2 separate regions of the Homo sapiens genome follow, and region 1 is linked to region 2. Evidence: fine-mapped expression QTL. A gene starts in region 2. The other region holds a variant in brackets. All regions are shown on one strand. Distances are from middle to middle. Region 1 has its middle 4.2 kb from the start of TRG-CCC4-1. Region 2 holds the start of PADI2 (peptidyl arginine deiminase 2).

The links. PIP is the estimated chance that this variant, and not a neighbour inherited with it, causes the effect.
Region 1: its variant is the best candidate, but not a certain one, in a credible set for the expression of PADI2 in whole blood (INTERVAL, PIP 0.64).

The regions. Positions count from the first base shown.
Region 1 is chr1:16,681,109-16,684,018 of GRCh38, forward strand. It overlaps the pseudogene EIF1AXP1. Among named protein-coding and RNA genes, the nearest start is that of TRG-CCC4-1, 4.2 kb to the left of the region's middle. The variant A/G (reference allele first, on the strand shown) is at 1,282.
Region 2 is chr1:17,117,569-17,120,478 of GRCh38, forward strand. It overlaps PADI2 (peptidyl arginine deiminase 2), which reads right to left and starts at 1,883. Exons shown (of 16, transcript NM_007365.3): 1 at 1,712-1,883. The coding sequence starts at 1,803. RefSeq lists a silencer at 1,693-1,902 and an enhancer at 2,474-2,910.

The sequences.
Region 1 (2,910 bases), 440 kb before region 2:
ATTTTACTGTATCTTTTGCATGCTGGGTGAGAAGATAACAAACACCTCTCCCTTCTCGTATTTTTTGCCGTAGGTAAGACAGTTCCCGGGCCTGATCCTGAATCAGGGAATCATATTTCCTAATGCAGGACAGAAGAGGAAAGGGTGGATGATAAGTTATGGGGGCTTCTGTAGAGATTTCTATGAGAACATCTCTAAGGAACTCCCCCAAACTGAATTCTGGCACATAAGCCATAGGAGGCATTTAACAGCAAATTCTACCCTGATAAAGTATCGCACTAAAAATTTTAGTATGGGCCGGGCGTGGTGGCTCATGCCTGTAATCCCAGCACTTTGGGAGGCTGAGGCAGGCAGATCATAGGTCAAGAGTTCGTGACAAGCCTGGCCAATATGGTGAAACCCCTCCTCTACTAAAAACACACACAAAAATTAGCTGGGCATGGTGGCACATGCCTGTAATCCCAGCTACTTGGGAGGCTGAGGGAGGAGAATTGCTTGAACCTGGGAGGTAGAGGTTGCAGTGAGCCGAGATGGCACCACTGCACTCCAGCCTGGGTGACAGAGTGAGACTCTGTATCAAAACAAAACAAAACAAAAATTTACCATGCCACTGTTCTTCAACTGTTATATATATGTTAATTATATGTCCCTAGATAAATTTTTTGGGAGCTGGGCCTCCAGCTGGGATACTCTCTGGAGGAGACTCTTCAGGTCCTTTTTGGCCTGAAGTCCTGGAGAGTAGAAAGCCCCAGTGCCATCAGACAGCCACAACTCATCCTCATCAGTGACACTATGAGGTGAAGACCCCTCCAGGGTGTCAGGAGCTCTCAGCTTCCAGGGTCTTTCCAGACTAGATGAATAATCACTTGTAACCAAGAGGGACTGGACCCGGTTCTTGAGGTTTTGAATGACCTTGTTGGCATTCTGCAGCTGGGCCTTCAGATCTTTGATGTCCTTTCATAGGACCCAGATGTTTTCTGACTTTCCATATACCCAGAACTCTTCCTGCCTCCCTAGTTCATTCTCCAAGGGCTTCCTCTCAGAGGAACTAGCCAGCGTTCAGCCCCGGCGCCCCTGCTCAGAGCACAGCCCCTCCACCAGGACCATTTCCTTGCGGCTGCTGTGCTCCTCATGCTCTGAAAAAAGACAAAGATGTCTTCCTAAATAAAAGTTGGATGTGCTGTTGTGGCCACTGCCTTTGAGAGGAGGCAGGTTTGGTCATGAGGACAATAATTACTAGGGAATAAGGTGAAGTCGTACTTTATTCAACCCTGACACTGT[A/G]CTAGGCATTCAAATACAGTATTTCTTATCCTCCTTATACCCACAAGTTAGGTTTCACCACTTTCTATTTTACTGACTGGGGAAACCAAAACTTAAAGAGAGGTGGTAAACCAGCTTGTTCTAGATCACTCAAACTAGCACATGGCAGAGCCTGAATTCAAATCCTCCAACGTCCTGTGTTCATTCCACACACACTGATGTTTCTCAAGCCATTAACATGGCCTTATCTAGTTAGGATAGCCACAAGAACGCAGGACAAGCTATTTCTGCATGCTGCAAGTTTAATGCTCTCTAAAGTTTACTATAATTTAAAAGTTTATTGGGTTACCACTGTGTGAAAAATAGGCATAGGAAAATAAGACTTCGAATAAATATATCAGCATGTTAACATCAGTGTATTGGGGCAGTGGTAGTCAGAATGAGAACTAATCCACAGCATTTTACCTGATGCCAGACACTGTTCTAAAGCATTTTATAAGAATTTACTCATTTAATTCACATTAGTATCTGATGGGGTAGGTAGTTCCTTTATTACTATTTTAACATATGAAGAAACTGGGGCATAGGAAAGTTTACAAATTGGGATTTGAAGCAACAAGTCTGGCCCCAGGATCTTTTCTCTTAACTGCCACACTACACTTCCTCAAGAATGAGAGAGACTGTGTTTTTCTTCTCTTCTGGTTTTCTTTTTTTTTTTTTTTAGTTTGTAAGCAAACATTTATAGCCATGATTCCACAGATGTGGTAAGTAAACCAACAGCCATTCCTAAATAAAATACAAGAATTTCCATCATGCATAGTTTACAGGCTTGGTAAGAAGCAGTCTCTTTAGGGGCTAGATGCTTAAGAAATATTCAACAAACAATGAAATCTTGGCTTTTTTTTTTTTTTTTACACAAATGTTTGGTTATTTAGCCACATTAGTGATAAAACATATTCATATTCTAACTGCAAGTGGAATAAACATTGCAACAAAAATGCAACCCAATCAAAATCATTAGTAATAACTATTACTCCCTCTTAGCAGTAAGAACCATTATTCTTGGATTTCAAACATTTTATTTTCTGTGCATAGCTTATAGCACTGTATTATAGGAATCAGAGTGTATAAGCAAAAAAATGAAATAAAACTTCTTGAAGACCATTTCCATTATTTATGATTAAATCAATGAAACTATACAATTTCCACATTAAATACAAATTAGTAAAAGAATTCCTCCAAGTAGTATTGCATATAAGCTACAACTTTACCCCAACTATTTTAATCACTATGATTCGAGATTTCCTAGGATTTAACAGCCCAAGATTGGGCTGTTACTACCTCAGCAAGAACAATCACCAGTAAATACATGAACTGGGGTTATAGCTGAATTTTTAGAAACTCTCCAGACAAACCACGTGTTAGAGGAGGTAAGTAGAAAAACTAATGTTTGAGCTGTGCTATTCCTACCAGGAACTATGTCAAATATGCAAAGTTCAAACATTCTTAGTAAAATAATATGAAAGGATCTATATATACTGTAAATTTAGCAAAAACACTTTTATGTACAGAAGCCTAAATATCTTAGGAGGTTTAGAATACCAATGAAGAGAATTGTTAATTCTTCAAGGCTGGTTTCTTATGAGGATT
Region 2 (2,910 bases):
ACTGCTGCCCCCTGCTAGAGGGAGGCTGAGTCCATATCTGCCCCACTCTGTGCCCCTACCCCAGCTGGGCCTCTCTTTGCCAGGATAGAGCGATAGCAGGGCGCCTGAGCAGGAACCCTCCTTTGCTCCCCACCCCCGACTGGGAGGATCATGCCAGCTTTTCAGGCGGCACCAACCATGCCCCAGCAAATAAACAGGTGGGTATGGTGACAGCTGAGGCTTAGAGACCTGAGCACTCTGGCTCCGCGCCCACTCCCTAGCGGTGCCCAGTTCAGGGCTGGGGGTGGGGAAGGCAGGGGAGCTCTTGCACCCCACCAGAGCCTGGACCACCCTCCACTGCTGTGTTCTTGTTCTCAGAGACCACCCAGTCCACCTCTGAGGTTTACATGGGGGACAACTGAAGCCCAGGCCCAGGGGAAGGCAGAGGTTGAGGCCAGGGACAGAGGCATGGAGTGGGTCCCTAGTCCTGGGGCTTGTTGGTATCAGCGTGGCCAGTGCCTCTGCAGCGGTGGCAGGAGACTGGTTGGGCAGGTGGGAGGGCTGCCAGGGCTGTGTGGGGAGACACATGATGGGTTGGTGGGGGCCTGGGAGAGGCAGGGTGCTCCAGGTGTCAGGATGATTTGAGAGCCATAAACCACGATGGTGCCTCCGTGTGAGTTCAGCTTGAGGCAGAGAGGATAGGGGACTCATCCGGTGTCAGCACAGGGTCCCACCTCAGAGTCCTGCATGCTCCCTGCCCCCAGCACTGACCCCTCCAACCCTAGCAATGGGGAGGTTTTAAATGCTTGGAATAGAGGGGGCAGATCAAACCCCAGCATAACCCCACCCTTTCATTCACACCAGCCACACCTTTCCAAGGCCCCGTCCCATTACTCAGGGAGACAGATCATTGGACTTGGCTGCTTTCTGGGATTGCGGGGGGAGTGGTAGGGCCCTACCCTACCTTCAGCTGTCTCGGACATCCCGCACTCTACCAAGTTCTTGGACAGAGAGAAGGGGAGGGAGCAGAACTCTGAATCAGGATCCTTTTCCAACAAAGTACCCCGCTATACACCCCAAGTCCCCGTCGTCAGCTGGGTAGAATATTGTCCCTCTGTGGTCTCAGAATGAAGTCAGGGGAAGGTATCTGGGGACACGGAGCTCAGGGCCAGTGCCTGGGGACAAGCAACCACCAGCAGCCCCCACAGGGCGAAATCGGAGCCTGAGTAACCTCCAGGGCCGGATTCAGCCTCAGGGCAGCTCCCTTCGGGTCCTGCCCCAGTCCCCGGCAAGTCTCCGCGGAAGCTCCGCTGAACTGGGAGTGGGAAGCAGGAGAGGGGCTGGGTTGAGGTGGGTCCGAGGGGAAGTGAGGTGCGGAGGGGAAGTGAAAGGGGAGAGGACGGCAGGGAAGCTGAAGGGGTGTGAGGTCCCCCGGGAGGAGAACTGGAGAGGGCCAGACGGAGGGTTACGGGTGAAAGGGAGGGTCTGTGAGGGAGCTGGGGCTGAGGCTGTGTTAGGGGGTCTGGGAGAGTCTCAGGGTTTCTGGAAGGTGGACACAAGGTTCGGGGGTTGTCAGGTTTCTGGATGAGATTCTTAGGATTTCTGGGCTCGGGGGCTCGGGATGAGGGACAACTCGGGCTGGACAAAGGCTGTCCACGTCCCCGAGTCTGAGCGCGTCTCAGGATTTCTGGGCTCGAGATCTCGGCCCGGGCATCACGGTGGGCCGGCTCACCTGTAGACATCGGTCCAGAGGTAGGTGCCCAGCACGTACACCGCCTCCACGCGGCTCCCGTACTGCAGCCGCACGGTCCGCTCGCGCAGCATCCTCCCCGCCGCAGTGCCCGCGCTCGCTGGTCCGGGGCGGCCGGGAGCACCTGCAGCAGGTGCGCCTTCTCCAGCAGCCTGCGCCCCACGGCCCCGCGCGCAGCCTTATCCAGCGGCCGGTGGGCGGGGCGGCCCGCCCCAGTCCTCTCGCAGTGGGCTGCGGGCCTGTCCGTCAAGCGTGGTCCCGCCCCTAACTCGTCCCGCCCCGCTGAGGTCGTGGCGAAGTCATCAGGGACCAGTTTTGTGCTTTCCATGGTTGGATTGTCATTCTTTCATTCGACAAACCTTCGGTGGGCGCCCAGGTGTTGGAGGGCCCTAGCTCCCCTCCGGACGCCCCAGCCCAGTGGGGCTGAAAATGCAAATGTGGGAACACAAAGAGGGTGCCCTAACCCAGCCTGGGGGCCAGGAAGCCTTCCCAGAGAAGACGATCCTGGAACCTTCTTAAAGGAGGCGTTTGCAAATTAAAGGCGAGGAGAGGGAGCTGCCTGTGCAAAGCCGGGTGCAGCCCGGTACCCCCATCCCCCAACAGTCAGATGAACCTCACCATAGAGAAAACGGGAAGCGGTGGGGATGGGGAACCCGGCAGCTGAGGGAGACCAGGACGCCAAGCCAAGGCATTGGAGGGTGGGAGATGGGAGCCTGGAGTGGTTGTCTCCGCGAGCCGTGGTCGGGTGTGCTCGTGAAATGGGTCATTCTGGGCTGGGGAGGGGCAAGGAAGCCCCTGGCTGTGGCCAGAGCTGGAGAGGTGGGGACTGACCCGGCCACTGCTTAGGGACTGGGATTTTGGTGGCACCTGGTGACTGATAGGATGTGTGGGTGGAGGGAGAGGAGAGGGGTAAGGATTAGGGCCCCGGTTCTGGCCTGGGCCACCAAGGGAAGGGGGGTGCCACCCAGAGGTCATCGTGTGTCTCACAGAGGCTGAGATGTAGGATGACAATCAGTGTGGGCCTCGGCCAGCCCCTCCCATGTCCCAGCCCTTCCCCTGGGACCCAGTGGGAGTGCTGTTCAGACACATACATCAGCCCTGTGTGAGGAAGTGGTCTTTGGTAGGTGAGGACAGAAACTGAGGGGGGGTGGGCAGAGGCCGTGGGAGGGAAGGAGTGGGGC